5 separate regions of the Homo sapiens genome follow, and regions 2, 3, 4 and 5 are each linked to region 1. Evidence: fine-mapped expression QTL. A gene starts in region 1. Each other region holds a variant in brackets. All regions are shown on one strand. Distances are between the middles of the regions.

Region 1 (6,075 bases):
CAGCCTGGGCGAGAGAGACTCGTCTCAAAAAAAGACAGGGTCTCCCTATATTGCCCAGGCTGGTTTAGTCTTGAACTCCTGGCCTTGGCTCCCAAAGTGTTGGGATTACAGGCATGAGCCACCGTGCCTGGCCCCATTTCTTAATTGATAGTTAAAAATAAAACAAAACAGCACTGAATTAAGGGCCCAAGTCTCTCAATTCTAATCCCGAAATTATAGCATGATTTTGGGCAAGTGCCCTACTCACCTATCTCTGTGGCTTCTGATCTCACCTGTAAACACACAGACCCACCTTCCACCTGAACCCTGGATTTACAGTCTGCACAGCATTTTCTCATCCATTATCTCACCTTGTTACCCACAACCCTGGGATTCAGGCAAAGCAAGTATTATCATCCTCATTTTATAGGGTAAGAAATTGGGGTTCATGAGGGTGAGTTGTCTGGCCTGCGGTCACACACTGTGGTCGTACAGGTCCTTACTTCGAAACATTGTGAGCTGACTCAGATAATGAGTTTATAAAGCCCACAAATGGCTAATGGGGGTGACCAGGCTGTGCTGTGTAAGCTATTAGTATGGCAACAGGATCAGATATGGAGCTGTCTTCAGGGACCTAAAGGGAGCCCTTTAGGCTAGTGAGGACAGGGCTATAATCCCTCCTGGTTTCTTTTGTTTGTTTTTGGTTTTTTGTTTTTTAAATGGAATCTCACTCTGTTGCCCAGGCTGGAGTGCAGTGGTGCGATCTCAGCTCACTGCGTCCTCCACCTCCCGGGTTCAAGCCATTCTCCTGCTGGGATTACAGGTGTGTGCCACCACGCCCAGCTAATTTTTTGTATTTTTAGTAGAGATGAGGTTTCACCGTGTTAGCCAGGCTGGTCTCGATCTCCTGACCTCGTGATCTGCCTGCCTTGGCCTCCCAAAGTGCTGGGATTACAGGCGTGAGCCAAAAAAACCCACCATCTTTGAGATGGAGTCTCGCTGTGTCCCCCAGGTTGGAGTACAGTGGCGTGATCTTGGCTCACTGCAACCTCCGCCTCCCAGGTTCAAGCGATTGTCCTGCCTCAGCCTCTCGAGTAGCTGGGACTATAGGCACGTGCCACCACGCCTGGCTAATTTTTTTATTTTTAGTAGACACGGGCTTTCACCATCTTAGCCAGGCTGGTCTTGAACTCCTGACCTCATGATCCGCCCACCTTGGCCTCCCAAAGTGCTGGGATTACAGTGAGCCACCGCGCCTGGCCCAATTTTTTGTATTTTTAGTACAGACGGGGTTTCACTATGTTGGCCAGGCTGTTCTCAAGCTCTTGACCTCAGGTGATCCACCTGCCTCGGCCTCCCAAAATGCTGGGATTACAGGTATGAGCCATGGTGCCCAACCCCGCCCCCCTTAGGTTTTAATGAGAGTCCTGGGTGGTCTTTGAAGGCCTAGGTGGATGCTGGTGTCAGGATCCTGAACCCAAGTCCCTGATTTCATAAAAAGCATCCGGAATCCTGCTTTCCTGCCACTGTTATCCCACAGGGGACAGGGCAGGAGTTGGCAGCTCAGGGCTGGTGAGAAGTCCAGAGGGCTAGCCAGGCACTCTGGCCATGCTCTTCCTAGGTGGCCTGAGAGTCCATATACTGAGCCAAGATGGCGGCCTTCCAGTTGCAGGAGTGTTAGGCCAGCCCAGATTGGCAAGCTGGGTTCTCCAGGCCCTGGGCCAGTATTCTGGACTGGGACTCAGTGGACTTTGAAGAGGTAGAATTCCCTAAGTCGGCCTCTCTCCTTGATAATTTACCCAGAATGGCCCAGATGACAATCTGGGTACAAAATATTTCAGTCCATTTCATCATGTTTACCAAGTACCAGGAGTCAATAGAATTTATGAGTGATAACTAAAGGGTAAGGCACTTTACATCTTAATCCTCTCAGCCACCTTGTAAAGCAGGTATTATCTCCATTTTTAAGTCGTGGAAACTGAGGTCCAGGGAGGCACAAGATCACATGACTAAGGGAGTGGGGAAAGCCAGGATTGGAGATTGGGTTAATAGGGCTCCAAAATGCCTGATCTTTCCACTCCCCTGAGTGCTCAGGGGTGATGAAGATGACTAAGACCCTGTTCCTTCCCTTGGGAGGGAGCGAAATACCCACTCCAGCTAACTATTGCATGGGTCAGGGTGACATCACCACCTCTGCAGCAGATGGAGGCTGATTCATCTGTGGGAGAGTCAGGAGGGGCCTCTGCGGAAGGGTCGGCTGGCTGGAAGGGTTGGCTGGCTGGAAGGGTCGGTTGGCTGGCGGGGGTTTTGAAGACGGCAAAGATAGAGAATGAGCCTTGGGGAGGTTCCAGGGCCAGATACAAACTGCCTGTATGCCTCCCAGGCAGGGGCCTCCTTGGCCTAGGTCCTTCCCATAGGAACTCAAACCACCACCACACTAACCATGGCTGAGGGGACCCGGCAGGCCGCAGTGGGGAGGGACGAGATCCCTGAGCTTACACAGGGGCTGAGGGGAGCTCAGTGAATCACCTAGGGGACACCTGGACCAAAGGTGGCGGAGGGGCGCATGGGTCTCCCTGCCAAGCTATGGGGGAGGGGATGGTGGACATGACAACTTCCAGCTCAGCGGTGCTTTAGGGTGGGGAGCCGGGATGAGGGAAGCTGGTGGCTATCCGGGGGGGGGTGCTCTGAGGTCTGCAGGGGAACTGCCTCCCCAAAGTTTCAAGCTAGGGGTGGAAGGGGGGATTTGCGGTCATTAGGAGCGGGAAGGAGGCCGGATGGGAGCACGAGGTGTCCCGCCTCCAAAGGGTGGAGGGCTCCCGGTGGGTGGCGCGGCGGCGGCCGCGGCGGTGAAGTCATCGTGGGGAGTGGTCCGCTTGCGGCGGGTGCGGGGGCTTCGCGGGCACCCAGTGGAGCAGCGGGAGCCCGGCGCCGTCGAGGGGCGGGCGATGGGGCGCCGGCCCGTCTTGGTAGGGGTGGGCTCCGCACTGGAGGCGGAGCTGCTGCTGGGTGGGGCGCGCCTCCGGCGCGGACGGAGGCGGCGGGACGCCCGCTCCCACGACCGGCCCACAATGAGGCGAGCGGGCAGCGCGGAGTAGGCGGCGGCCGGCCGGGCCGGGCCACGCGGCGGCGCTGCTCGGGCAGGTTAGGGCAGGGCCGCGGGGCGCCCGAGCGAGGACACCGCGGCCCCGCCTCCGCCCCTCCCCTCGCCTGCCGGTCGGCGCCCGAGCTCGGAGCCGCAGCCGCAGCCGGAAACCGGGCCCGCGCGGCGGCCGCCGTCCCGGCCAAGCCGGGGCCCCGAAGCCAGAGCCGGAGCCGGGCGGGCCGCGGGGTCATGGCTGGGCCGCGGGGCGCGCTGCTGGCCTGGTGCCGCCGCCAGTGCGAGGGCTACCGCGGCGTGGAGATCCGCGACCTGAGCAGCTCCTTCCGGGACGGCCTGGCCTTCTGCGCCATCCTGCACCGGCACCGGCCCGACCTGCTGTGAGTGCGGGGCCCCGGGCGAGCGGGCGGCGCGGGGCGGGCTGGGGCCGCGACCGCCGCCCCCCCTCAGTAACACGAAGCCCGGGCGGTGACAGGCGCCGCCCCCGGACACGGAGACGCCGACCCCCCCGACGGCCCCGGACGCCGGGCGGGTCCCTGAGACCCCGGCCCAGGGCGCCCCTCCCCCGCCCGGCCGCCCTGACCCCGCCCGTGGGATCCCGAACTCTCCCCCGAGGCTGGTCCCTCCGCGGGGACACTGGCCCCGCCCACAAAGCGCTGATTTCCGCCGAGGATCGCTGAACCCCTAAGCCCTTGACCTCTTTGAAGGGGTGTTGAGCCCTCTTTGGGGGCCCTGGGCCTCTCCTACCCTAAACTCTTCTCCACGGGCTCGCCGGGCCTCCCCTCTCCCCCGAGGCTTCCCACTCGGGGTGGCCCCTTGCTCCGGGTGTGCAGGTGAACCCCCACTTCTCTGACCCCCAAATAGGAGCTTGTCTCCGGACAGTAGCACAGTTCCCGGCACAGAGGAGACCTCGGCTAACAGGTGTTGGATGAATGGATGTACAGACCCTGTGCTTTCCCCACGCCCCCCAACTTAGGACGCAGCCCTGCCTCCCGGGTGTGTGCTCGATGGCCCTGCAGCCCTCCTCAGTGGGGCACGCAGGTGGGGCGCGCAAGAGGAGTCACAGGCCGGCAATGTTGGGAAGACTCCTAGGATCCGATTGATAGACACCAACCGGGTGCTGCAGGTTGTGAAATGGCCCCTTCCTGCCCAGAGCTGCCCAATGAGGTTCTCATGGGAAAATGCATTCAGACTCCCCGGAACAGTTGACTTGGAGCCTCTGTCTTTGCTCTCTCTGCCTTGAGCCCTGGAACCTCTCCTCCTTTCGTCCCTTCATTCCTAAAACACTGGGTGAGTTTATCTGGTGCCATTCCTTGCACTTCAGGTCTCACCTGTGAATCAGGGAGGAGAGTTCTGGTCCCTACCCCTTTCGCATGCAGCCCTCTTGCCAGGGCTCCCCCAGCCTGGCAGATGGAGGCTTTCTGTGCCTGTTCCACCTCCAGATTTGCACTGTCCGAGGGCAGCATGTGGGAAGGCTTCTAAGGGATTGCCTCAGGATTCCATGATGCAGGTGCACCTGGTTTACCTGTATGTACCCTGCAGTACCGTGTCTGTGGGTGGTGGCTTGGGCCCTGGAGGAGAGGGTTTTGGGGCTGTGGATACAGAAGGGAACAAGATGAGGTGGTCATGTAGGTGGGCCCCTGCCCGCTGTGGGGCATGTGACACCCATACTAATGGAAGCACAAGGTTGATGCCTGGTTGCCCAGGAGCAGGGGGTAGAAGGATGGAGGAAAAGGGCACCAGGGTTAGACCTGGGCATTGGAAGGGAGGGCCCAAGGGGTCTTCTGTTTTGTTTGAGGGGCAGGAGTGAGGCAGGAAGCAGGGACAAACCCAGTGTGGGAGGGGACTTGGGTGTGAAGTGAAGCCATTTGGTGGGCCTGAGCCTGGTGGCATCAAAGTAAATAAAGGCCGCCTGGTTTGTGTTTAGCTTCTCCATGTCTTAGGCGCATGGCCTTGGGTCCTCATGGGCTCTCTCCAGGCATCAGTGTCCTCATCTGTGAGGTGGGATTGATAATGTGACACAGCTCACAGAAATGTGAGGATTGCATGAGATAACAAGCATTCATTTAACATTAGTTACTGTGAGTAACTAATGTTACTTTTTTTTTTTTTAATGTTTTTTATTTTTTTGAGATGGGGTCTCACTCTGTCACCCAGGCTGGAGTGCAGTGGCACAGTCATGGCTCACTGCAGCCCCCACCTCCCGGGCTCAAGCAATCCTCCCACCTCAACCTCCCTAGTAGCTGGGACCACAGGCACACGCCACCACGCCTGTCTAATTTGTTTGTATTTGTAGAGATGGGTTTTCACCATGTTGCCCAGGCTGGTCTTGAACTCTTGAGCTCAAGTAATCTGCCTACCTCAGCCTCCCAAAATGCTGGGATTACAGGCATGAGCCACCATGCCTGGCCCAATAACAATGTTTGATTTCTTCATTTATTCAACCAGTATTTGTAGAGTCATATTGCTCTGTGCTGGACACTGTACCTGGTAATGGAAGTACCAATCGACAAAACAGGCAACCCTACACGCTCTCCCACACCTGTAGGGGAAACGTGTATAAACGATGATGGCAATTCCATGTACCCTATCAGAGGGCTGGGGGTGGGAGACCTCCTAGGGAGAATATAGTCTTCAAGGAGATGGCAGGAGCCAGGTGAGGGCTGCTGGGTGGACGTTCTGGCATGGGACCCCATCTGAGCAAAGGCAAGGGGCGGGAGGTGTGTGCAAAGCTGGAGGCTGTGTAGCTGAGTGGGGAGCACAAGGTAGCGAGTTGGGAGATGCAGTTGGGACAGATGGCTGACAGCTGCTTTTGCTGGCTAAGGAGCATGGATAGGGGCCTCAGGGAACCATGCAGGGTTTTTTTTGTTTTTGTTTTTGTTTTTTTGAGATGGAGGCCTGTCACCCAGGCTGGAGTGCAGTGGCGTGATCTCGGCTCACCACAACCTCTGCCTCCCGGATTCAAGCGATTCTCCTGCCTCAGCCTCCCAAGTAGC
Region 2 (6,075 bases), 28 kb before region 1:
CTCATGTGCATGTATGTGTTTCTGTCTTCCCTGTCCAAAAGGACTTAATTGAAAAAGCAAGGAAAAATAACAAAACTGAGATGTATAGCATTTTAGAGCTGAAGGAGATTTTAGGGATTACCTGATCCAGAACCTTCTTGTTTACAGCTAAAAAAATGGATTCCTCAAAACATACAACTTAATTGATGAATAGGAAGATCCGCTCTCAAACTCTGGGACTCCAGAGCTTCCTCTGGATAGTTGAGGGCCTCTGCAGGGAAAACTCTTGGTGTTTCTACCTCTGGTTCTATCTAGGATGAATTGGGACTCATGAATGTTTGTTCTACCTCCTTCTACAGAGTATGTATTCCCGTGTGCCAGAGTGCCAGGTCACCACATACTATTATGTTGGGTTTGCATATTTGATGATGCGTCGTTACCAGGATGCCATCCGGGTCTTCGCCAACATCCTCCTCTACATCCAGAGGACCAAGAGCATGTTCCAGAGGACCACGTACAAGTATGAGATGGTAAGGGGGACTCTGCCTGCCACCAGTGGCCTTTCTAATCAGGGGGATCCTTGGCACCTATGCCAACCATTCTTGGTAAACACCATCCAAAATATTGCACTTTTAAGCCAGGAGTTCAAGACTGTAGAGCGCTCTGTGATTGTGCCTACTAATAGATCACCCAGCTGGAGTGCAGTGACGCAGTCACAGCTCACGTCAGCCTCAACCTCCTGGGATCAGGCGATCATCCTACCTTAGTCTTCCGAATAGCTGGGCTTAAAGGCGCACACAACAACACCGGCTAATTTTTTTTTTTTTTTTTTTTTTTTTTTGAGACGAAGTCTCTGTCACCCAGGCTGGAGTACAGTGGTGCAATCTCAGCTCACTGCAACCTCCGCTTCCTGGGTTCAAGTGATTCTCCAGCCTTAGCCTCCTGAGTAGCTGGGACTACAGACGCGTGCCACCATGTCCAGCTAATTTTTGTATTTTTAGTAGAGATGGGGTTTCACTATTTGGCCAGGCTGGTCTCGAACTCCTGACCTCAGGCGATCCATCCACCTCAGCCTCCCAAAGTGCTGGGATTACAGGCGTGAGCCACCACGCCCAGCCAAAATGAACTTTTAATGGCTAGCATACTCTTAGGAGTTTCTGTTGTGATGCCTGTTACCTCAGATCATTAACATCTTGATGATAAGGACTTGATGATAATATCTTTTGTTTCAGTTATATCCTCCAGCAGTGCCTACATTTATTTATTCAGCATCAGTATGCTGAGTGTTCACTGGGTTCTAAATGTTTTGATATAAGGTGTGGATATTGGTGGGAAGGAGGATGGGTTCAAGAATTGGGAGGAGCTTCCTAGGCAGAGAATATCATGAGCAAAGTGGTTGAGACTTGAAAGTGTGGTGATGCAGCCGCACAATAAACTGTTCTGGCTGGAGGGCAAGTAGGTAGTAGGAATTGGGTTATTAGATTCTGAGAACCTTCATTAACCCAGGTAAAGTATAGTCCTGTGTCATTTGATGCTGCAGATACATTCTGAGAAATGCATCATTTGGTGATTTTGTTGTGTGAACATCATAGAATGTACTTACACAAACCTAGATGGGATAACCTACTACATACCCGGGCTACATGGTATAGCCTATGGCTCCTTGGCTACAAACGTCTAGAACATATTACTGTACTGAATACCATAGGCAGTTGTAACACAAAGGTATTTGTGTATCTAAGATACAGTAAAAATACAGGATTATAATCTTGCAGGATCACCATCCTATATGTGGCCCATGGCCCGTTGTTGACTGAAACGCTGTTGCACGGCACATTACTATTTAGTCTATATTTCTGTCGTCATCAAGGTTGCATCAAAGGTTTTGGGTAACTCGATCCTAACTGTGTAAAAGGATTGACCTGCTAGTGATGTGTGGGACAAACTGGAGAGACTAAGACAGAGGTGCCAGTAAGGAATCCAGAAGATGGCTAAGGAGGATCTGGAGCTAGGATGGAAGTTAGGTAGATCTAGAGGGAGGATTGGAAGAGATGTTGGGGAAGTTCAATGGCTGGTATGAAACAACTGGGTAAGTCAAAGATCTGTGCAGAGAATGGTGAGGCCAGTTGGCAGTGGGGACCTCAGGAAGTCCGTCTCATTTGACCCAGTACCACTCTCCACCCCATCCCCAGATTAACAAGCAGAATGAGCAGATGCATGCGCTGCTGGCCATTGCCCTCACGATGTACCCCATGCGTATTGATGAGAGCATTCACCTCCAGCTGCGGGAGAAATATGGGGACAAGATGTTGCGCATGCAGAAAGGTGACCCACAAGTCTATGAAGAACTTTTCAGTTACTCCTGCCCCAAGTTCCTGTCGCCTGTAGTGCCCAACTATGATAATGTGCACCCCAACTACCACAAAGAGCCCTTCCTGCAGCAGCTGAAGGTGTTTTCTGATGAAGTACAGCAGCAGGCCCAGCTTTCAACCATCCGCAGCTTCCTGAAGCTCTACACCACCATGCCTGTGGCCAAGCTGGCTGGCTTCCTGGACCTCACAGAGCAGGAGTTCCGGATCCAGCTTCTTGTCTTCAAACACAAGATGAAGAACCTCGTGTGGACCAGCGGTATCTCAGCCCTGGATGGTGAATTTCAGTCAGCCTCAGAGGTTGACTTCTACATTGATAAGGTATGCCTGTCCCCTGGGCTTGGGGTCTTGTATTAAGTGTTCAGTATCTTTCATTCACTATTGTGGGCACATGAAGTATATCGGGGAACAAAAAGATTCCTGGCCTTGTGGTGCTGCCACAAGGTGCCAGGTGTGGTGGCTCATGCCAGTAATACTAGTACTTTAGGGGAGGCTGGGGTGGGAGGATCACTCTAGCCCAGGAGTTCAAGACCAGCCTGGGCAACGTAGTGAGACCTTTTCTCTATTAAAAAAAAAAAAAAAAAAACACAAGAGATAAACAATAGATGGTTTTGTTTTGGTTTTTTTTTTGAGATGGAATTTCGCTCTCGTTGCCCAGGCTAGAATGTGATGGCACGATCTCGGCTCACCGCAACCTCCGCCTCCCAGGTTCAAGCCATTCTCCTGCCTCAGCCTCCTGAGTAGCTGGGATTACCGGCATGTGTTACCATGCCCAGCTAATTTTGTATTTTTCGTAGAAATGGGGTTTCTCCATGTTGGTCAGTCTGGTGTCAAACTCCCAACCTCAGGTGATCAGCCAGCCTTGGCCTCCCAAAGTGCTGGGATTACCAACAATAGATGTTATAATTAAACAATAGATGTTATAATTAAACAAACTATGTAGTAAGAAGTTGCCAAGCACTGCAGAGTAAAGGAAGGCAGAGGTGGTGGGAAGCACAGGTTGCAATGTTAAATACGGTGTTCAGACAGGCTTTGTTGAGAAAGTGAAGTTTAA[G/C]CTAAGCTAAGACTTGAAGGAGGTGAGGGAGTAGTGTTTTGGTTTTTTTTTTTTTTTTTTTGACAGTCTTGGTCTGTCGCCCAGGCTAGAGTGCAGTGGTGCAATCTCGGCTCCCTGCAACCTCCGCCTCCCAGGTTCAAGCAATTCTCCTGCCTCAGCATCCTGAGTAGCTGGAATTATAAGAGGCCGCCACCACACCTGGCTAATTTTTGTATTTTTAGTAGAGACAGGGTTTTGCCATGTTGGCCAGGCTAGTCTCAAACTCCTGACCTGAAGCGATCCATCTGGTGGAGAGTTCTTAATAGCTCACCAAAGGCTGGACACGGTGGCTCATGCCTGTAATCCCAGCACTTTGGGAGGCCGAGATGGACAGATCATGGGGTCAAGAGATCAAGACCATCCTAGCCAACATGGTGAAACCCCATCTCTACTAAAAATAAATTAGCTGGGCATGGTGGCGCATACCTGTAGTCCCAGCTACCCGGGAGGCTGAGGCAGGAGAATCACTTGAACCCAGGAGGCGGAGGTTGCAGTGAGCTGAGATCGCTGCACTGCACTGTAGCCTGGCAACAGAGCGACACTCCGTCTCAAAAAAAAAAAAAATAGCTCACCAGATATCTGGAGGAAGAGCCTTCCAGGCAGAGGAACAGTTAGAGCAAAGGCCCCGAAGAGGAGTGAGGCCAATAAGTTTAAGGGACAGTTGTAGTATGCCCGAGTAGCCTGAGAAAGGAGGCTGTGAAGATGAGATTGGAGAAAGGGGGATGGTGCTTTGTATACTGTTGGAGTACTTTACAAGTGGGAAGCCATTGTCCTGCTGCCTTCTTTATTTTTTTATTTTTAGTTAGCAATAATCACACCTCACATAACCCTCATTGGCCATACTGCCACTGCACAAAGCTTTTTTTTTTTTTTTGAGATGGAGTGTCATTCTGTCGTCCAGGCTGGAGTGCAGTGGCACGATCTTGGCTCACTGCAACCTCTGCCTCCCGGGTTCATGCGATTCTCTTGCCTCAGCCTCCTGAGTAGCTGGGATTACAGGCTCACACCACCACACCCAGCTAATATTTTGTGTATTTTTAGTAGAGACAGGGTTTCACTATGTTGACCAGACTGGTCTCCAACTCCTGACCTTGTGATCCGCCCGCCTCGGCCTCCCAGAGTGCTAGGATTACAGGCGTGAGCCATCGCGCCCGGTATTATTTTATTTTTATTTTATTTTATTTTATTTTGAGATGTCTCGCTCTGTCGCCTAGGCTGGAGTGCAGTGGCGCGATCTCAGCTCACTGTAAGCTTCACCTCCCAGGTTCACGCCATTCTCCTGCCTCAGCCTCCCGAGTAGCTGGGACTACAGACACCCGCCACCACACCTGGCTAATTTTTTGTATTTTTTAGTAGAGACGGGGTTTCACTGTGTTAGCCAGGATGGTCTCAATCTCCTGACCTCGTGATCCACCCACCTCGGCCTACCAAAGTGCTGAGATTACAGGCGTGAGCCACTGCATCCGGCTCTCTTTTTTGAGACAAGGTCTCACTCTGGTTGCCCAGGCTGGAGTGCAGTGGTGTGATCTCAGCTCACTGCAGCCTCAACTTCCTGGGTTCAGGTGATTGTCCTACCTCATCCTCCCAAGTAGCTGAGATTACAGGCGCACGTCACCACGACTGGCTAATTTTTGGTATTTTTAGTAGAGATGGGGTTTGGCCATGTTGCCCAGCCTGGTCTCGAACTCTGATATGTGCCACTGTTCCCAGCCGATTTTAAGTTTTTACTTTATAGAAACAGGGTCTCACTTTGTTGCCCAGGCTAGTTTCAAGTGATCCTCCTACCTTGGCCTCCCAAAATGCTGGGATTACTGGTGTGAGCCACTGCGCCTGTCCTGTCCTGATGTCTAACATCTTGGATTAGTGCTGCCTGTTTGTGAACTTTATATAATGGAATTACACAGTATGTACTCTTTAAGTCTGGCTTCTTTTGCTCAACGTTATAATTGAGTGAGTCACCGTCCATTGTGTGTAGCAGTGATTCCTTCATGTTTATTGTTCTGTGATAGTCCAGCATCTGCTGTTGTTATTGTACTGCAGTTTATCCATTCTCCCATTGATTAACGTTTGGATGGTTTGTATATTACAAAAAATACAAGTAAGGTTTTTACAGAGTGGCTAGTAATACATTTATATATGCCTATGTATGCCTCAAGTTCTTTCCAGAAGGATACACAAGCAACATAGCAGTAGCTTCCTCTCAGGAGGGGAGGTGGGTTGAAGAACAGTGTTAGTTTTCACTGGCACTTTTAAGTTCAAGCTGGACATTTTAATGTCTGATGAGATTTTCATTTTTATTTATTTATTTAGAGACAGAGTCTCATTGTATCACTCAGGCTGTAGTGCAGTGATGTGATCTTGGCTCACTGCCACCTCCGCCTCCTGGGTTCAAGCAATCCTTCTGTCTCAGCCTCCTGATTAGCTGGGACTACAGGCGCTGATGAGCTGATGAGGTTTTTAAAAGAATTGTTTTCTTTTTTTTTAGACTGAGTCTTGCTCTTGTTGCACAGGCTGGAGTGCAATGGCACAATCTTGGCTCACCGGAACCTCTGCCTCCCGGGTTCAGGCGATTTTCCTGCCTCAGCCTCCCGAGTAGCTGGGATGTACAGGGATGCGCCACCATGCCCAGCTAAT
Region 3 (6,075 bases), 160 kb after region 1:
GATTCCCCTGCCTCAGCCTCCGAAGTAGCTGGGATTACAGGCACGTGCCACCACGCCTGGCTAATTCTTGTATTTTTAGTAGAGACGGGGTTTCACCATGTTGGTCAGGCTGGTCTCGAACTCCTGACTTCAAGTGATCCACCTGCCTCGACCTCCCAAAGTGCTGGGATTACAGGCGTGAGCCACCATGCCCGGCCCCATTTTCTTCAGTCTGTTTTCCGCCCTGTAGTCTCTCCCCCTTGTGCCCTCCCCCTGCCCCTGCCCCTTCTCTTTGGATTCCCCCATCTTGGGGGTCCCTTTCCTGGTTTACTCCCTGATCTCCCGTGGAGAATATCCTCCTGTAGCTTTCTGAGAAAGGGCACGTGGGATGTCAATTTTTTGAGACCTCGGGTCTGTCTTTTTTGGTCATTGTGGTTCCCATATTCCTTTCAGTTGACATTTTGGCTCATTCGATTCAAGAATGAACGTCAAGGTTGACAGTAATTCCTGTGTGGAAGTGTGATGGCCTTGTCACATTGTCCTTTGCTGTCACATGGCTATTGCCATTCTTATTGGTGATCCTTTATTTGTGATGTGTTTTATTTCTGATCTGTGAGAACTTTGAGGACTTTGTTTTTGTCCCTGGTGTTGGGAGGAGTCGTGATGGTAGCTGCAGGCACAGGCTTTTGTTTATTGTGCCAGATCCTCAGAGGGCGTCATCGGGAACACCATGTCCTTCTTGTCATGTATCTCGATGATGACATCCTGCTTTCTGTATTCTCTGTTCTGCTTTTTTCTATTTTTTTATTGTGGTAAAATTTACCATCTTAACTTTTTTTTTTTTTGAGACAGGATCTTGCTCTGTCGCCCAGGCTGGAGTGCAGGGGTGCGATCATGGCTCACTGCAGCCTCAACCTCCTGGGCTCAAGCGATCCTCCCACCTCAGACCCCCGAGTAGCTGGGACTACAGGCACGCGCCACCATGCCTGGCTCATTTTTGTATTTTTTTTGTAGAGACAGAGTTTTGCCATATTGCCCAGGCGATCTTCCCACCTCGGTTTCCCAAAATGCTGGGATTACAGGTGCGCACCACCGTGCCCAGCCCTTGGTCTATTTTTGAATTAGGTTGTTTGGTTTTTGTTGTTGAGTTTTAAGAATTCTCTACAAAGCACAATCGGCTAAGAGGAAAAAAAGAAAAAAGAGTTTTAGGAATTCTGCATATATTCTGGATATTAATCCCTTATCAAAAATGTGATTTGCAAATATTTTCTCCCATTCTGTGGGTTGCCTTTCTTTTCTTCTCTTCTCTGTTCTTTTTTTTTTTTTTTTTCGAGACAGTGTCTCACTCTGTTGCCCAAGCTGGAGTACAGTGACGGGATCTCAGCTCACTGCAGCCTCTGTTTCCCAGGCTCAAGCGATCCTCCCACCTCAGCCTCCCAAGTAGCTGGGACTACAGGCGTACACCACCATGCCCAGCTAATTTTCGTGTTTTTTGTAGAGACAAGGTTTTGCCACATTGCCCAGACTGGATGGTGTATTTTGATGCACCAGTTTTAAAATTTTTATGAAGTTCAATTTGTTTATTTTTTGTTACTTGGATCTTAGGTGTCACATCCAAGAAATTACTGTAAACTCCAATGTCGTGAAGGTTTTGGACTAGGCATTTTTCTGAGTTTTATAGTTTTAACTTTTACATTTAGGTCTTTGAACAATTTTGAGTTAATTATTATTATTATTATTATCTTCGAGACAGAGTCTCGTTCTGTTGCTCAGGCTGGAGTGCAGTGACATGATCTCGGCTTACTACAACCTCCACTTCCCAGGTTCAAGCGATTCTCCTGCCTCAGCCTTCTGAGTAGCTGGGACTGCAGGCGCCTGCCACCATGCCCAGCTAATTTTTGTATTTTTAGTAGAGATGGGGTTTCGCCATGTTGGCCAGGTTACTCTCGAATTCCTGACCTCAGGTGATCTGCCTGCCTTGGCCTCCCAGAGTGTTGGAATTACAGGTGTGAGCCACTGCGCCTGGCCTTGAGTTAATTTTTGTATGTGGTGTTAAGTAGTGTCAACTTCATTTTTCACATACCATTGTTGAAATGACTGTCCTTCCCCATTGAATGTTCTTGACACCCTTGTCAAAAATCATTTGATGCCGCCGGGCACGGTGGCTCACACCTGTAATCCCAGCACTTTGGGAGGCCAAAGCAGGTGGATCACCTGAGGTCGGGAGTTTGAGACCAGCCTGACCAACATGGAGAAACCCTGTCTCTACTAAAGATACGAAATTAGCCGGGCGTGGTAGCGCATGCCTGTAACCCCAGCTACTCGGGAGGCTGAGGCAGGAGAATTGCTTGAACCCGGGAGGCGGAGGTTGCGGTGAGCGAGATGGCGCTATTGCACTCCAGCCTGGGCAACAAGAGCGAAACGCCGACTCAAAAAAAAGAAATCATTTGACTATGTATTTGAGGCAGGAGAATTGCTGGAGCCCAGGAGTTCAGTGCCACAGTGAGCTGTGATCACGCCACTGCACTCCAGCCCGGGTGGTGAGACGCTTTCTCAAAAAACGAGAGCAGAGGGTAGAGTGGAAGACAGAGCCAGGCAGTGGTCAGGTGTCTTCCCAGGTTCCATCTTAGCCCTCCCTTTCTTCCCCCACCACTCTCCTTATGCACCCACAGGTATTTGACAACACCCCAGCAGCCTTGGACGGCACAGTGGCAGCTGGCGATGAGATCACCGGTGTCAATGGCAGGTCAATCAAAGGGAAAACTAAGGTGGAGGTGGCGAAGATGATTCAGGAGGTGAAGGTAAGGGCTGCTGCAGAGCAGGTGTCCAGAGGCAGCAACACATGTTTCTGAGACCTCCAGGCTGCCAGAGGTCCCAGCAGGCCTGGAAGGGGGTATCAGCCCTCACCGCCCCCTTCCTTGTCATGTGCAGGGTCAGGGTCACACTCCAGCCTCCCTCATCCATCCCTCATTCATTCAATAAATACTAATCGTGCTCCAGGACTTGTGCTGAACCTTGGCAAGAGAGTGGGCAGCAAGACCACAAGGTCCCCATGAGCTCCCAGGGAGCTGACAGACTTGGAACCACCCCTCAGGCAAGCCCATGTGTCCCCAGTCAGTGCCAGAGCTGAAGCTAAAAGTCCAAGGTGATCCTCCCTGGGTCAGTAGACACCCAATAATGTCAGCCGGGTCACGCTGGGCCTGTGAGGGCTAGGAGGGAAAGAAGAGTGCCCTTTCCCC[A/G]TCCTGTAGGAACTTTCGGTCCCACACAGCCTCCTGGGCTCATAGACACCCAGAGACCCCCCTCCCAGGCCAGCTGATCTTCTGCTCTACAGACCAGAGTCACACACTGCCTGCCCCGCTTTCCCCCACCCCTGCCGCTCCAGGACTGGAATGGCAGGCGGCATCCCGGCCTCTCCTGAAGCGAGCATGCAGCCCCTTTGCCATTTCCTAGCGAAGTGGCTGCTAGCTAGTCTCAGGAAACCAATACTGTGAAAGAACTGATGTGCAGGCAGTGCACAGCCATGGGGTGATTTGAAAGTCTCGGGGGCAAGGGTCCCCACTGTGAGTTCAGCTTGGCCAAGGGTGGCAGCTACCTCCCTCAGCCCCACTTCCATCCTCCGGGTTCTGGCACTCCTGATAGTCCGCCTTCCTGCCTTAACCCAGGCCAGCCGCTGCTCCATCCTCTCTCCCCTTTATCCTCCTGTCCTGCTCCTGAGTAGTCCGTGCTTCTCTCCTTCCTTGCTGTAGGAAGAGTCCCATCCTGCACATTCTCCTATTCCAGCCCCTTTAGCCATAGGACAAATCAGGGCCTGGGGCTGGGGCTCAGAGCTCTGTTGTAAAAAAAGGAAGCAGCAAGGTTCATTGAGACCCCACAGCTGCCACTCCACGTGGTCTGGGTATCACTGCCTCAGGTATGACCTGTTAGGCAGAGGAGCTGATCATGGGAACAGGTGCAGGGGGTCTCGTTCTGGCCGAGTTGGGTTGTGTGTGCCCCATTTGGCAGCCCTTCCCCCCTCCGCATCTCCTCCCCATCTCCACTCGCCAGGTCCCTCCCTGTCCTCTCAGGCTTGGTCATACCAGCACCTCAGGTTGCCCATGAGGACAAGAGCTCTTTGTATTTGCACACAGCCATGACAGGGATGCAGCATTGGCCCAGCTCCCCTGTTTGGGTGCTGGGCAGGGATTACTCTCCCATCTTACAGGTGTCCACAGGCGGGGAGTGACCTGCTTGTGGTCACACAGCTGAACTGGAGCCCGGGCCCGACTCCCACTGCAGCCCGCTTGCCGTTGGCCTACAGCTGCTCCCTGTGGGGTGGCCCCTGAGCACGCCTGTGTTTCATTCTGCGGGAGCAGTTCACACCCCACCTCTGACTCTGATTGCATCTGCTCATTTTGGTTTCCCTTTGGGACTTGATTTTAAAATCCTGTTTTATATTTGGATGAATGTGGTCCCAAGTTCAAGGGCTTTTGGTTTGCAAGGATGAGAGTGAACACAGCGCCCTCCCGTGCTCAGGCAAGTCCTCTTGGGAGAAGCCTTTGTCTCCTGAGCAGTCGTTAGAAAGTGGTTTGTGTAATTCCCTGATTCGCATCAGCCTTGCGGGGCTGGGGCTGCCCCTGCCCCTCCCCTTGGTGCCCCAGCACCAGGCACAGAGCAAGTGCTCAGATGTGCTGTTCGATGAGTAGAGGGATTCCTGGGGATGGGGTGTTTTGGGGTGGAGGAGGGAATAATCAGTGTAGGGAAATGACACGGCAAAGGCTTGGAGTGTGGTTTGCGTGGGGAGGGAAGAAGGAGAGCCTGACCTGGCCGAAGCACAAGACATCAGAGACCGCCAGGCTGTGGGCCCGGTGCCGGCCCTGTCCCCACTGATTCCCCAGGGCTTGGATGTAGAGTAGGAAGGGAGGGGCCTGGGATCAGACAGGGTCACAAGGTGGGGCCATGTCACAGCGCTCAGCCTGGCCCTTACTGGGGCTTAGGATTCTTTTTTTTTTTTTTTTTTTTGAGACAGAATCTCATTCTGTCATCCAGGCTGGAGTGCAATGGTGTGATCTCAGCTCACTGCAACCTCCGCCTCCCAGGTTCAAGTGATTCTTTGCCTCAGCCTCCTGAGCAGCTGGGATTACAGGCACGCGCCACTACGCCCAGCTAATTTTTGTATTTTTAATAGAGATGGGGTTTTGCCATGTTGCCCAAGCTGGTCTCAAACTCCTGACCTCAAGTGATCTGCCTGCCTCAGCCTCCCAAATTGTTGGGATTACAGGTGTGAGCCACCGCACCCGGCCTTGGGCTCAGGAGTCTCAGTCCAGAACAGTCTTGGCTGGGAAGGGGCTCAGGGTGTGGAGCCTCGCTCACTAGTCTGTGTGTGCTGCTCTTCCAGGGGGAGGTGACCATCCACTACAACAAGCTGCAGGCGGACCCCAAGCAGGGCATGTCCCTGGACATTGGTAAGCTGGTCAGAGCAGTTACGGGTGTCCAGCAGCCTCCCTGGATGGGCCCTGGCCCAAAGGAGAAGTGCCACAGCCAGCCCTGCCCTCCCCTTTATGACAGGAGAATCCAGAGTTACATGGCTGTGGGCTCTGACCTCTGACCAAGCAAATCTGAAAGGCCTGGGAGGCCTCCCGGTGCTCTCCCTGCATCTGTTCTTGTACTCTGTCCCTGGTTTCTCACTCCCCCGCGTTTCACCCCTACCTCCCTGCTTCTGCCATCTCCTCTGGGGACTTGCTACCCTAGGGTTGTCCTTTGCAGGCCAGCGCCTCGGCTTCCATGGCCCAGGGCCTCACTCTTCATAAAGGGAGAGCAGCCTAACCCTGGCCTGGCGCCTCATGCCCTCTAGCACAGCGCACTCCTCCCTGGCCTCTCCTGCCATCAGCTCCCAGGGGGACTCTGGATCTGAACTGGACCTCAGGCATTGGGCAGAGGGTCTGCGCCCTGGGACAAGTTCCCTCCTGTTAGAGGGGCTGAGCCTCGGTTCTGTAGAAACTTTAAGACTCAAGAGCTGGACAGCAGCTTCGAGTCCTCTGGACCGGCCGCTTCACATTATGGATCAAAGCCTGAGACCCAGAGAGGGCGCTGCAGCCCCTGGTGAGCGCACACCTAGGT
Region 4 (6,075 bases), 220 kb before region 1:
CATGGCCCCCAATAAAGGCAGCTGCCTCTGCTCCCTCTGAACCAGCCTCGTGTGTGTGCTTGTGCGTGTGTGTGTATGTGTGTGCATGTGTTTGTGTGTGTGAGAGGGGTCCCCCACCTCCAGGCCTGCCCCCTTCCTTCACTTCCATTCGCTTTGTCCACGGGTACCTCCTCAGTTCCAATGACGTCTTCCGCTGGGTCCCCCAGACAAAGCACACAGAGTTTGGCACATAGTAGGAGGGTCAGTGACCACTGAATAAAAGTCAGTCCCTGCCCTGAAACTGTTTTTAGCCTAGTGGGCCCTAGCACACAGCAGATGCTCAAAGGATGTTGCATAAATGACATCAAGGGGGAAAGAGGCAAGGACAGACCAATTCGTGTGTAGTGACGGGGCAGAAGACAGGGAGGTGGAGGGAAGAATACGAGACCCCTCTCATTTGCCTTCATGAGCTAGAAAGAGATTTGGAGTCAGACAACAACGGGCTGCCAGCTATGTGGCCTTGTGCATGTTAACTGACCTCTCTGAACCTCAGCTTATTCCTTTATAACAAGGAGGATAACACAAACAGCCTATCAAAGAGTTGTTCCAAAGACCAGTCACTTCTTGGCCTTCTGGCTGAGATCAAGTGGAGATTAAATGAGGTGTTGCATGAAAGAAGCCAAGTTCAATACCTGGCATATGGTAAATGCTTAGTGGATAGTGGTTTCCCATACCTCGTGCACGGATTATTTTTTTTTTTATTTTTATTTTTTTAGAGATGGGGGTCTTCCTATGTTGCCCAGGCTGGAGTGCAGTGGTTGTTCACAGGCATGATCATGGCATACTGCAGACTCAAAGTCCTGGGCTCAGGCAATACTCCTGCCTCAGCCTTCTGAGTAGCTGGGACCACAGGTGTGTGTCACCGTACCCAGATCCCTGCACCACTTTTGAGGTGCTATTACTCCAATTGAAGGGGAAGAAATGGGCTCTGATTGATGAAATGACTCCCGGATCTGTACCAGGTCCAGCTGAGCCTGCGGGGCTCCTCAGGGATCCCGGCTTTGTGGGCTCAGGCCATGCACCCCACTTTGCTAGACTGTATGGGCAACCAAAGGACTAGTCTGGAAGCTGCCGGCTCTCATTCCTGGGCAGATGCCCCCACCCCAACAGTGGGTTTGGGTGATGACCCTGGCACCCCATTGCCAGCCCGTTTCTGTGGTAGGAGGAGCTGGGGTTGGGGGCTACGTCAGCCTCTGCAGAGAACCAAGAGGTAAAAGCCAGCCAACATGAGGCCCAGCCTCCAGACTCCCGCAGCCTCCTCCTTGGGGTACAGAGTAGGGGTGACTCACTCAACCTGAGATGAGGTCTCCATGAGCCTGTTCTCTCCTGGTTTCCAAAGACAGTGTCTCCTCCAAGACCAGCCCAGGCTGTTACCTTGGAGGGTAATGCTTAACCCAACCCCATCAAACCCACCCATCACAACTGCTGGGGCCTGAGTGGACGGCTAGGGTGCCCTGCAGACTGACTACTTCCCTGCACCTTTTCCTTCCTGCTTGCTGCTGCAGTCAGATCTTCCCAGGGCCCCTACCTCTCTGGGAACCAGCTGCAGGAACTGAGCCAAAGTTCAGAAGGTTAGAATGAGAACATCATTAGGCTCCCCCATAACCCCAAGGCACAGTCTCCTGAGGCATGGTGCGTGGGTGGGGGGGTCTTGGCAAATCTCACTTTCTAGGGCAACTGGCACCAGCTGTGAGTAGGTCTCTTATACACCCAGCCTCAGTTTCCTCATCCATAAAATGAGACCCATTTTGGGTAGATGATTTCCATCTCAGTGGGTGCCCTGGGACCTGGGTGGAAGCGGGGGTCATGTATCTCTCTATGAGGTCAAAGAGGATGGAACACACATGCTGAGAACTCCCATGAGCCACACCCAATCTCCAGGCTCTCCTGGGGCTCCCAGGTGGCCACCCAGAAACAGCTTCAGAAGCCTGGCTGCAGATGGAGTGCCCTCTGCTGGACATTGGAGAACACGTCCCCCAGGCTGCCCTGCCTTGTCCTCAGTTCACCCACATTGATTCTCCCCTACACTGGCTGACACTCACAGGACACTAGGACTGGGGCCACAACCGGGCAGAGGAAAGTCCTGGGGCAGGTAAGAGAGGCCACTGGGTGTGGAGGAAGGAAGCCCGGCTCAGCGTCAGACAGACCTGTGTTTAAACCCCAGCTCTGTGGCTGTGTGCCCTTGGACCAGTTATTCAACGTCTCTGAACCTCAGTTTCCTCATCTGGCAAACTTTGTTAAGACTGCACTAGTTGGCCAGGCACGCTGGCCCACGCCTGTAATCCCAGCACTTTGGGAGGCCGAGGTGGGTGGATGACCTAAGGTCAGGAGTTCGAGACCAGCCCGGGCAACATGGCGAAACCCCGTCTCTACTAAAAATACAAAAATTAGGCCGGGCATGGTGGCTCACGTCTGTAAATCCCAGCACTTTGGGAGGCCGAGGCGGGTGGATCACCTGAGGTCGGGAGTTCGAGACCAGCCTGACCAACATGGAGAAACCCCGTCTCTACTAAAAATATAAAAAATTAGCCGGGCATGGTGGTGCATGCCTGTAATCCCAGCTACTTGGTAGGCTGAGGCAGGAGAATGGCGTGAACCCGGGAGGCGGAGCTTGCAGTGAGCCGAGATCCCGCCACTGCACTCCAGCCTGGGCGACAGAGCGAGACTCCGTCTCAAAAAAAAAAAAAAAAAAAAAATTAGCCGGGCGCAGTGGCGCGTGCCTGTAATCCCAGCTACTCAAGAGGCTAAGGCAGGAGAATCGCCTGAGCCCGGAAGGCAGAGGTTGCAGTGAGCCGATATTGCGCCATTGCACTCCAGCCTGGGTGACAGAGCGAGACTCCATCTCAAAAAAAAAAAAAGACTGCACTAGTATTGGCTGGGTGTGGTGGGTCACACCCGTAATCCCAGCACTTTGGGAGGCTGAGGCAGGAGATTCATTTGAGGTCAGGAGTTTGAGACCAGCCTGGCCAACAAGTGAAACCCCGTCTTTACTAAAAATACAAAAATTAGCCGGGCATGGTGGTGCATGCCTGTAGTCCCAGCTACTGGGGAGGCTGAGGCAGGAAAATCACTTGATCCCGGGAAGAGGAGGTTGCAGTGAACCGAGATCATGCCACTGCATTCCAGCCTGGGCGACACAGCAAGACTCCGTCTCAAAAAAAAAAAAAAAAAAAAAAGATTAGCTGAGGTGATGTATAGAAATGCATGGTGCCTGGCACGCAATAGGGGCTCGGTGAGTGTTGGTTCCCTTCACCCCTTTTAAGGCTTGGTGTGTCCCAAGGGCCTAG[G/A]AAACTAGGTCCAGATAAGTTAAGTCAATCTCTGTCCTTAGGCCACCTGCGCCCCACCCTCAGCACCTGTTTTTGCCTGTGTGACCTCAGACAAGTGACTGCACCTCTCTGAGCCTCAGTTTCCTCCTCAGTAAAATGTGGATTGTACCTCAAAAGAGATCATCATAAGCCAGGCACAGTGGTGGGCACCTGTGGTTCCAGCTACTCCTGAAGCTGAATGGGGAGGATCGCTTGAGCCCAGGAGTTTGAGACCAGCTTGGGCAACATAGTGAGACCCTCATCTCTATAAATAAATAAATAAATAAATAATAAAATCAATAATCTAAAGAGAGTAAAGAGCTAAATAAATGTCAGCTGCTCTTGTTACTCTTTTTCCTCATTAAGTTTATCATCACTTCTTTTCTTATTGTTTTTGTTTTTTGTTTTGAGACAGAGTTTTGCTCTTTTGACCAGGCTAGAGTGAAGTGGCGGGATCTCGGCTCACTGCAACCTCTGTCTCCTGGGTTCAAGTGATTACTCGAGTAGCTCAGCCTCTCGAGTAGCTGGGATTACAGGCATGCACCACCACGCCCGGCTAATTGTCATATTTTTAATAGAGATGGGGTTTCATCATGTTGGTCAGGCTGGTCTGGAACTCCGAACCTCAATTGATCCACCCACCTTGGCCTCCCAAAATGCTAGGATTACAGGCATGAGCCACTGCGCCTGGCCTGTTTTTTTTTTTTTTCTTTTTTTTTTTCAGAGATGGGGTCTCACTCTGTCACCCAGGGTGGAATGCAGTGGCATGATCACAGCTGCAGTGCAGCCTCAAACTTCTGAGCTTGAGTGATCCTCCCACCTCAGCCTCCCAAGTCGCTGGACTATAGGAGTATGTCACCACGCCTGGCTAATTTTTAATTTTTTGTAGAGACAGGGTCTTACTATGTTGCTCTACTGTCTGTCGCCAGGCTGGGGTGCAGCAGCGCAATCTCGGCTCACTGCAACCCTCCCGGGTTCAAGTGATTCTTCTGCCTCAGCCTCCCAAGTAGCTGGGACTACAGGCGTGTGCCACCATGCCCAGCTAATTTTTGTATTTTTAGTAGACATGGGGTTTCACCATGTTGGCCAGGATGGTCTCGATCTCTTGACCTCGTGATCCTCCCGCCTCAGCCTTCCAAAGTGCTGGGATTACAGGTGTGAGTCACCGCGCCCGGCTTGAGCCTTCACTTTTCATCTCCAACCACTCTGGGTGGGAGTGGAGCCCTGGCAAACCAAGCAGGTCGAAGCCTGGGACTGGGAGGAGACAGACCAGCTGCAGAAGGTGACTCTCTGGGCACCTTCAGCCAGGGTGATGCCTCTACCCAGGAAGGTGCCAAGGGTGGCTTTAAGGCACTGCCACTAAGGGGCAGAAGCAGCTGGTCAGAGGTGCAGTCCAGCACCCTAAGGGAGCCCCCTGCATTGCTCTGGGCCACAGAACTGAAAGGCCAGGCCTGTAGTTTAAGGGTAACTTCCAGCTGGGCGCGGTGGCTCACGCCTGTAATCCCAGCACTTTGGGAGGCCGAGGTGGGTGGATCACCTGAGGTCAGGAGTTTGAGACCAGCCTGACCAACACGGAGAAACCCCATCTCTACTAAAAATACAAAATTAGCCGGGCATGGTGGCACATGCCTATAATCCCAGCTACTAGGGAGGCTAAGGAAGGAGAATCGCTTGAACCTGGGAGGCGGAGGTTGCAGTGAGCCGAGATCGTGCCATTGCACTCCAGCCTGGGCAACAAGAGTGAAACTCCGTCTCAAAAAAAAAAAGGTAACTTCCTCTCAGGATCCCACATAGATTTCCCAAGCAGAGGAGCTGTATGGAATGAATTCAGCATTCTGGAGTGCTGCACTTACTGCCTGCCTCCTTCCAAAACTCAGAGTCAGGGTACAAAGATCAGCTGGGCGTGCTGGCAGGTGCCAGTAATCCTAGCTACTCAGGAGGCTGAGGCAGGAGAATTGCTTGAACCTGGGAGGCGGAGACTGCAGTGAGCCGAGATCACAACACTGCACTCCAGCCTGGGTGACAAGAGCGAAACTCTGTCTCAGAAAAAAAAAAAAAAAAAGCGGATGAAGGATTCTGGCATACAATCCAAGTGACTAAAAATCCCCTTCAGGCGTTGTTTCACTGCAATCTTTCACAACCATGCCCTCATTCTCAGTCAAGGATGTTATTATACACTCATTCCACCTTTGGGCAAAGTGAGGCACAAAGAGGGAAGATGGCTTGTGCAGAAAACACATGTATGCGTGCCTTATGTTAGACAAACTTTACATAATTAACTTCCTCACAATCACAGCTGTCAAGGTTTAGTCCACGGACCAGCAGCATTAGCATCACCTGAGAACCTGCTAGAAACGGAAATCCACTCAGAAACCTCTATCGGATCAGAAACTCCGGGGTGGGGCCCAGCGATCCAGGTTTTTAGCCCTCTAGGGGATTCTGATGTATGCCAAAGTTCCAGAACCAGTGTCTACAACAACCCTACGAAGCTACTATACTTTCCCTTATTTTACAAATAGGGTGAGGCACCGCGAAGACCATTGGTCTGGGACCACACAGCTGTAGGTGTGATGCCAGTATACAAATCCAGGCAGTTTGGCTCCCTCTTGGAGACTACCAACGAGTTGACATCAGCATCTAAAGTAGGGGCCAGCACGGTGGCTCACGCCTGTAATCCCGGCACTTTGGGAGGCCGAGATGGGAGGACCACTTGCGGTCAGGAGTTCAAGCA
Region 5 (6,075 bases), 980 kb before region 1:
TGATGTCTCCTATGCTTTTAAGCTTAAAGAGTTCAAAGGCATTCACTCCTCTGGTTTGCAGCTTTCATAGGATGTAACATTTTACATTTAAATTTATAATTAACTTGTTATTTGGGGAATGGTGTAAAATGGGGTTTTAGATAGGCATTTTTATGTTGTTAATCAATGATTTTAGCATTTTTTTAAATTTAATATTTCATCGCTTCACATTGATTCCTGATTCCTTCTCAGTCTGGGGTCAAGTAGAGTTTGTTTCCAGCCAGCATGTCCATTGATAGATTCTGTGTGTGTGTATGTGTGTCTGTGCATGTATCTGTATGTGTGTGTGTATGTCTGTGTGTAGGTGGTATATGCGAGTGTGTATGTGTGTGTGTGTTGTGCATGTATGTGTATGTGTGTCTGTGTATGTGTGCCTCTGTGTGTGAATTTCTGTGTATGTGTGAATGTGTGTGCATGTTTGTGTGTATATGTGTATATATGTGTATATACATGTATGTATCTGTGTTGTTCATGTGTGTATGTGTGTCTGTGTCTCTGTGTGTGTGTTTGTATGTGTGTGTGCATGTTTGTGTGTGTATATGTGTGTATATTGTATGTATCTGTGTGTGTCTGTGTCTGCCTCTGTGTGTGTGTCTGTGTGTGCATTTGTGTGTATACATGTGGGTATGTGTGTGCATGTTTTGTGTGTACGTGTATATATGTATGTATCTGTGTGTGTCTGTGTGTTGTGCGTGTGTGTGCCTGCGTGTGTCCGTGTGCTTGTGTGTGTGTGTGTGTTTGCATGGGCATCTTGAGTGAAGCTTCCAACAATCTAACAGAAGAAAAGGAGCCACACTTGTCTGTTCTGCTCTCTTGGGTACTTCCCAGACCAGTGAAATGAAAGGGAGGAAACCCCCGGCCTCCGAGGAGAAAAGGGAACTGGCAAGCAGAGGGTGGGGGGATGACGGTAAAAGGAGCAGGGGTGGGGAGAGCACAGGCCCTGTGGAAGTGAGGACATGTGTGTGTACATGTGTTCATGTCCAGGGGATGACACTGTGGCATCCAACAGCCGTGGACCAGCAGCCCACGGGGAGCTTAGTAGGAGTCAAATCCTAGGCCCCTGTCTCAGCTGCTCTGCTGTCTAGCGCATTGTGCAGTGGTAGGTGTCAGTGATCCAAGTGGGGACCCAGTCCCTCAGGCCACACAGCGCATGTCCATTGCCTTCATGCCGCAGGAGACTGAGAGGTCATGCATGAGGGCCACTTCTCTGGGTTGTCCCCACAACACGGGCGGTGTCCCTGGGACACGTGGAAGGGGAGGGGCAGCTCACTGCTGACATCTCCTTCTGCAGGCCTGGAGGAGGCAGAGGCCAGGAGGGAGAGGTCCCAAGAGCCTGTGAAATGGGTCTGGCCTGGCTCCCAGCTGGGCAGGAACACAGGACTTCAGGACACTAAGGACCCTGTCATGCCCATGGCCAGCACCCACCAGTGCTGGTGCCTGCCTGTCCAGAGCTGACCAGGGAGATGGTGCTGGCCCAGGGGCTGCTCTCCATGGCCCTGCTGGCCCTGTGCTGGGAGCGCAGCCTGGCAGGGGCAGAAGGTGAGTCCCGTGGCTCCCACCCACTTCCCTGTCCCTGTCCTCACTGCTGCACCCTGGGGGAGGGCCGCAGCGTATCCTCAGGATCCTGCCCGCCAGCCCTCCTCCTGCTCCCCTCCCTCTGTCTCTCCCCCTGGCCTTCCCTGGGCCTCCCCCGCTTCCCTCCTCCTGCACATTCCTGCTCATCCTGTCTTGGAAAGTCCAGCTGAGCGTGTCTGGCTTCCTTGCCCACATTTCTCAGGGCGGCACTCCCGGCCCCTAGGCTCCAGGATGGCTGCTCTGGCCGTTTCCCTGCCCCTCCTTCCCCAGCAGACACTCTCTGTGCCTCAGTGGTTCCCACCTCCGGGACTTTGCTCCTGCAGGGCCTTGGCTGGGGTTCTCTCCCTGCTTCAGCCGCTAGCACCCTCCTTGTGCCTGAAGCCCGCACTGGGATGCTCCTGGGCTCTTGAGGTGAAATGGCCCCTCCCAAGGGCTCCCAGAGACCTGGCTTCTGTGATAATGCTGGGACCACAGTCCCCTTAACAAATACCAGGCTCCTGAGGACGGGGACTAGAGAGGAGGTGGGAGGTTGCAGGGTAGAACTCTGCCACGCTGCATCCCAGGGCTGAGTGTGTGCCCCCTCCCAGGCTGCACAGTCGGTCCAGGGGCCAGGCCTGTGCTTGATGCATGTCCCTGTCCTGGGGTGGGGGGAGGGGACCGTGCCCAGGAACAGCACACTGCGGAGGCCCAGAAACCATGCTGAGAACCAACAGAATGTCTTGCTTCTGCCAGGAGAGGAGGGTCCGCAACCAGGAGCCCACCCCGGCAGACATGAACACATGTACATGTGCCTGGCCACCTGGTGCCTCTGCAGGGACCTGGGAGACCCCTCCCCAGAGCGGGACATCCCAAAGCAGCTGGGGGTGATGGTGACAAGGGTCCCTGCAGGAAAGAGAGGTGACCCCCTTCTACCCCTCTTGTCAGAAACCATCCCGCTGCAGACCCTGCGCTGCTACAACGACTACACCAGCCACATCACCTGCAGGTGGGCAGACACCCAGGATGCCCAGCGGCTCGTCAACGTGACCCTCATTCGCCGGGTGAATGAGTGAGTGATGCTGGGGGCAGGGGCCACGGGCAGGGGCTACGACGTCCCCTGTGCCTGGCATGGGGCGACAGTGTAGAGAGGGACCTGTCAGGTCAGCCTCGGGGTGGGAGTGGACAGAGGACAGAGGAGGAGGGAGGCCCTGCAAGAGCTCCTGCTCCGCCAGGCACCTGCGAGGCCGGGTGCTGCCGTCTGACCTGGGGTTTCTGCGGAGTGCCTCCTACACTGATGTTGGTGACAATGGTGGTGGTGGCAATGGTGAAAATCTTCTCTTGTTTCATCACAATTTAACACAATTGCCCCACATGACCTATCTTAGTTCCTCCTCACTGTGAGGTGGGCAGGGCCAGGCCACGAAGCCCCAGCTGTGCCACTGCCTGCCTGTCCAGAGTAGACCAAGGAGAGATGGCGCTAGCCTGGGAGTTCACAGATGGGAAAACTGAGGCCCTGGAGGTGAGGTGCCAGCCCTGGCCACGGGGTAGACAGTGGCAGAGCAAGCTGTGTGGACGTGTCTGGGAGGGGGCTCCGCGCTCTCCCAGGCCCCCCCTCCGTATGTGGGCTGCCACCTCTCCCACCCAAGCTCTCCTGGGCACGTGCCACAAGGGAAGGGGACCAGAATCGCTCTGGGGTGTTGGCCAGGGTCTAAATCAGCCATAAATTAAGTAATTAAATAGCTGGAACCAGAGAGGCAGATGACAACCCATTGGAGGTCACCCCAGCGTTGGGGGGCGGGGCCGGCTCTGCCACCCCCACCCCTCCACCGCCTTCAGTTCTCCAGGGCGTCTCTGTCGGACCTTCTCCATTCTCCTCAAAGACCATCCTGCCCCTCCCTGTGACCTGCTTCCTGCTGCTCTGACACAACAGGGGACCAGGGAGAAGCTCCCCACCCACCCCACACTCACACTCCCCACCCCCTTTGCCCACCGCCGGGGCCTGGGCCTGGACCAGGGCTCCTGTCTGAGGCCTGAGACACGATGCTGTCTGGTCCTGTTGCTCAGGAACATCACGGCCCCCAAGTCCCCACTCTGCCCTGTGCCACCCACCATGCCCTCTCCCAGGATCTTTCCCAATTGCCTTGCAAACCTGCCCCAACCCCCTCTCAGATGCCCACAGGAGTGCAGCGCCTGGGCATCTCCTGACCTGGCAACCCTGCGGCCCCTCTTTCTCTGCTTCCTTTGACAGCAGCATTCCCTAAAGAGTTGTCCACATTCACCACGTCCAGTGTCTTTCCAGCCATTTCCTCCTGGGCCCACTCCCCTAGGATGCTGCCCCCACCAGGCCACCCAAACTGCTCTGGTCCAAGTCAGCAAATGTCCCAGGGAGCAGGATCTCATGGTTGGGCCTCCGCCTTCTTCCTACTTGACCAGGGGCAGCCCCTGACAAGGAGGACCACCGCGGCCTCCCTGCAGTTTCTCTTGCACCTGACTCTGCCCACAGCTCACCCAGTGCCCCCGGGGCCCTGCCCA[T/C]CCTCCTCTTTCTCCTTGTCTGCTGCCTCCTGATGGCAAGACACCCAGGCCCAGTCCATGGACCTCCTCTCTGCTGTATCCACTCTGCAGAGACCCCCTCAGGCCCCTGGGGCATCTCCCAAAGGTGACCTCAAGCCCACAATTCCCCTAAGCTCCAGCCCTCCAGGCGTACTGGCCTCTCCACCTGTCACTTAGACAACAGGTGTCTCCGACTCCAAACGTCCTCAACCAAAGTCCCGCTCTCACCCGAGCTGCGCTGCTGCCTCTGTCTTCCCCATCTCCCTTTCTAAATGGGAGCTCCTAGTGGCTCAAACTAAACAACAGGGAGGATTTTGTTTTGTTTTTAAGTCTCTTTTGTCACCATTCCTTCCTGACTGCTACATCCCTCCACCAGCAAATGCTGCCAACCTTATCTCAAGCAGAACATGAATCTCACCCACGCCAGCCTGACCACCCTGTTGCACGCCACTTCCTGTCACCTGAATATTCCAGAAGCCTCGTAACTGGGCTCCCTGCTTCCAACATTGCCACATTCCCACCTCAGTCTATTCGCAACCGAGGACCCTCAGGAATCCTTTCAAAGCATTTATCAAAATCTACAACACCTCTGCTCATGACTGTTTCCCACTCACTCGCAGTGAGATCCAATCCCATCATGTAGATGGATGGGTCTCCTAGACCTCCCTATCACACGCTCTACTCCCTGCGCACTGGTTTTAGGCCAAGCCACGCAGCACACCAAACTCTGCCTGTCCCAGGGCCTTTGCACGTGCTGTTCCCATTTCCTGAAATCCTCACAATTTGCACAGTCCCTCCCTCAATGCCTTTAACATTCTGCCCCCAGGTCACCTCCTTAGAGAAGCCTGCTTGTCCCATATTTCAAATTGCCTCCCTGGCCCAGCCCTTCCTCCCTCCTCACCTGCTTCTTGCTTTATTTTTCCACATGAAGTTCTCTCCACTGCACACGCTACACACTTTGTTCCATGCGGGTCCCCTTCTCCCAGGATGGCAGCTCCGTGGGCAGGATTTTTGTGTGTTTTATCACTGCTGGCCCCTGATTCTGAACAGAGCCAGGCATGTGGTGAGCACTCGAGGAACCTTTCGTGAGTCAGTGATACCCATACACCCTGGGCTAAGCCGTGTCCTCTCCCAACAGGGACCTCCTGGAGCCAGTGTCCTGTGACCTCAGTGATGACATGCCCTGGTCAGCCTGCCCCCATCCCCGCTGCGTGCCCAGGAGATGTGTCATTCCCTGCCAGAGTTTTGTCGTCACTGACGTTGACTACTTCTCATTCCAACCAGACAGGCCTCTGGGCACCCGGCTCACCGTCACTCTGACCCAGCATGGTGAGGGGCTGGGGGCCCTGCCCGGGGCTTGGTTTCCTGTGTGGACAGCGGGGGCACCAGGGGTGGTCCAGGGAGTCTTCAAGGCAGAAGGCTGTGGCTTGGGGTTGGGTGAGGGTTTCTTGAGGGATGAGGGTATGGTCTGGTTACATGGAGACTTCAGAGCAGAGGGGCCCCTGACAAAGGCTTCTCCTGTGCCCCTGGCTGCTACCACCTCCCACTAAGCCATGGGCTTCCAGCACTGCAGGCTTGTCTTGAAGAAAACCGTTCTCACCACTCACTTAGAAACCTACCAAGTTAGAAAACTCTGTCCGCTTAGTTGTTTCATCTCATCTCTGAAGCAACCCATTTCCTGGATGTGGCCCTTGAGGCCCAGGAGGTCAGATGCCTCCTCTGAAGTCCCACAGCTGAGCAGTAATGACAGAGATGGGGTCAGCCTTCCCGGGGGCTTCCTGCATGGTAGACAGGGAGCTTGTCTCCTCGCTGCCCTGGAGGAGGGGCCCCGGTGTGGGCCGAAATCCCACAGTGGTCCATGAAGCCATCTGTGGTCTAGGGTGGGGTAGATGATTATTTTATGTAGTTAGGTTTTATTTGCCTCTATATTAG

Direction of the effects. Alleles are on the strand shown, and positions count from the first base shown. SD is a standard deviation of normalised expression in the study named. Not every link is listed here.
For the expression in neutrophils of the gene that starts at base 3,188 in region 1, allele C in region 5 goes with a lower level than allele T (moderate effect, 0.46 SD a copy in BLUEPRINT).

What was found. PIP is the estimated chance that this variant, and not a neighbour inherited with it, causes the effect.
Region 2: its variant is fine-mapped to the expression of MICALL1 in whole blood (TOPMed, PIP above 0.99).
Region 3: its variant is fine-mapped to the expression of MICALL1 in whole blood (TOPMed, PIP above 0.99).
Region 4: its variant is fine-mapped to the expression of MICALL1 in whole blood (INTERVAL, PIP above 0.99).
Region 5: its variant is fine-mapped to the expression of MICALL1 in neutrophils (BLUEPRINT, PIP 0.95).

What each region holds. Positions count from the first base shown.
Region 1 is chr22:37,903,110-37,909,184 of GRCh38, forward strand. MICALL1 (MICAL like 1) reads left to right here and starts at 3,188. Exons shown (of 16, transcript NM_033386.4): 1 at 3,188-3,459. The coding sequence starts at 3,314. RefSeq lists enhancers at 1,879-2,694, 2,695-3,510, 3,511-4,326, 4,327-5,140 and silencers at 2,801-3,520, 3,631-3,740.
Region 2 is chr22:37,875,503-37,881,577 of GRCh38, forward strand. It overlaps EIF3L (eukaryotic translation initiation factor 3 subunit L), which reads left to right. Exons shown (of 13, transcript NM_016091.4): 10 at 339-509; 11 at 2,172-2,669. Among named protein-coding and RNA genes, the nearest start is that of MICALL1, 28 kb to the right of the region's middle. RefSeq lists a silencer at 4,576-4,735. The variant G/C (reference allele first, on the strand shown) is at 3,403.
Region 3 is chr22:38,062,351-38,068,425 of GRCh38, forward strand. PICK1 (protein interacting with PRKCA 1) reads left to right here. Exons shown (of 13, transcript NM_012407.4): 4 at 2,652-2,780; 5 at 5,354-5,420. Among named protein-coding and RNA genes, the nearest start is that of PICK1, 8.0 kb to the left of the region's middle. The variant A/G (reference allele first, on the strand shown) is at 3,219.
Region 4 is chr22:37,679,762-37,685,836 of GRCh38, forward strand. It overlaps LGALS1 (galectin 1), which reads left to right. Exons shown (of 4, transcript NM_002305.4): 4 at 1-41. Among named protein-coding and RNA genes, the nearest start is that of NOL12, 3.5 kb to the right of the region's middle. RefSeq lists enhancers at 1,698-1,897, 1,752-2,252, 5,601-6,075. The variant G/A (reference allele first, on the strand shown) is at 3,327.
Region 5 is chr22:36,920,706-36,926,780 of GRCh38, forward strand. CSF2RB (colony stimulating factor 2 receptor subunit beta) reads left to right here. Exons shown (of 14, transcript NM_000395.3): 2 at 1,331-1,578; 3 at 2,539-2,662; 4 at 5,282-5,472. The coding sequence starts at 1,503. It overlaps LOC105373023 (a long non-coding RNA gene), which reads right to left and starts at 5,238. Exons shown (of 2, transcript XR_938230.2): 1 at 5,045-5,238. RefSeq lists enhancers at 784-1,163, 1,583-2,153, 4,799-5,998. The variant T/C (reference allele first, on the strand shown) is at 4,126.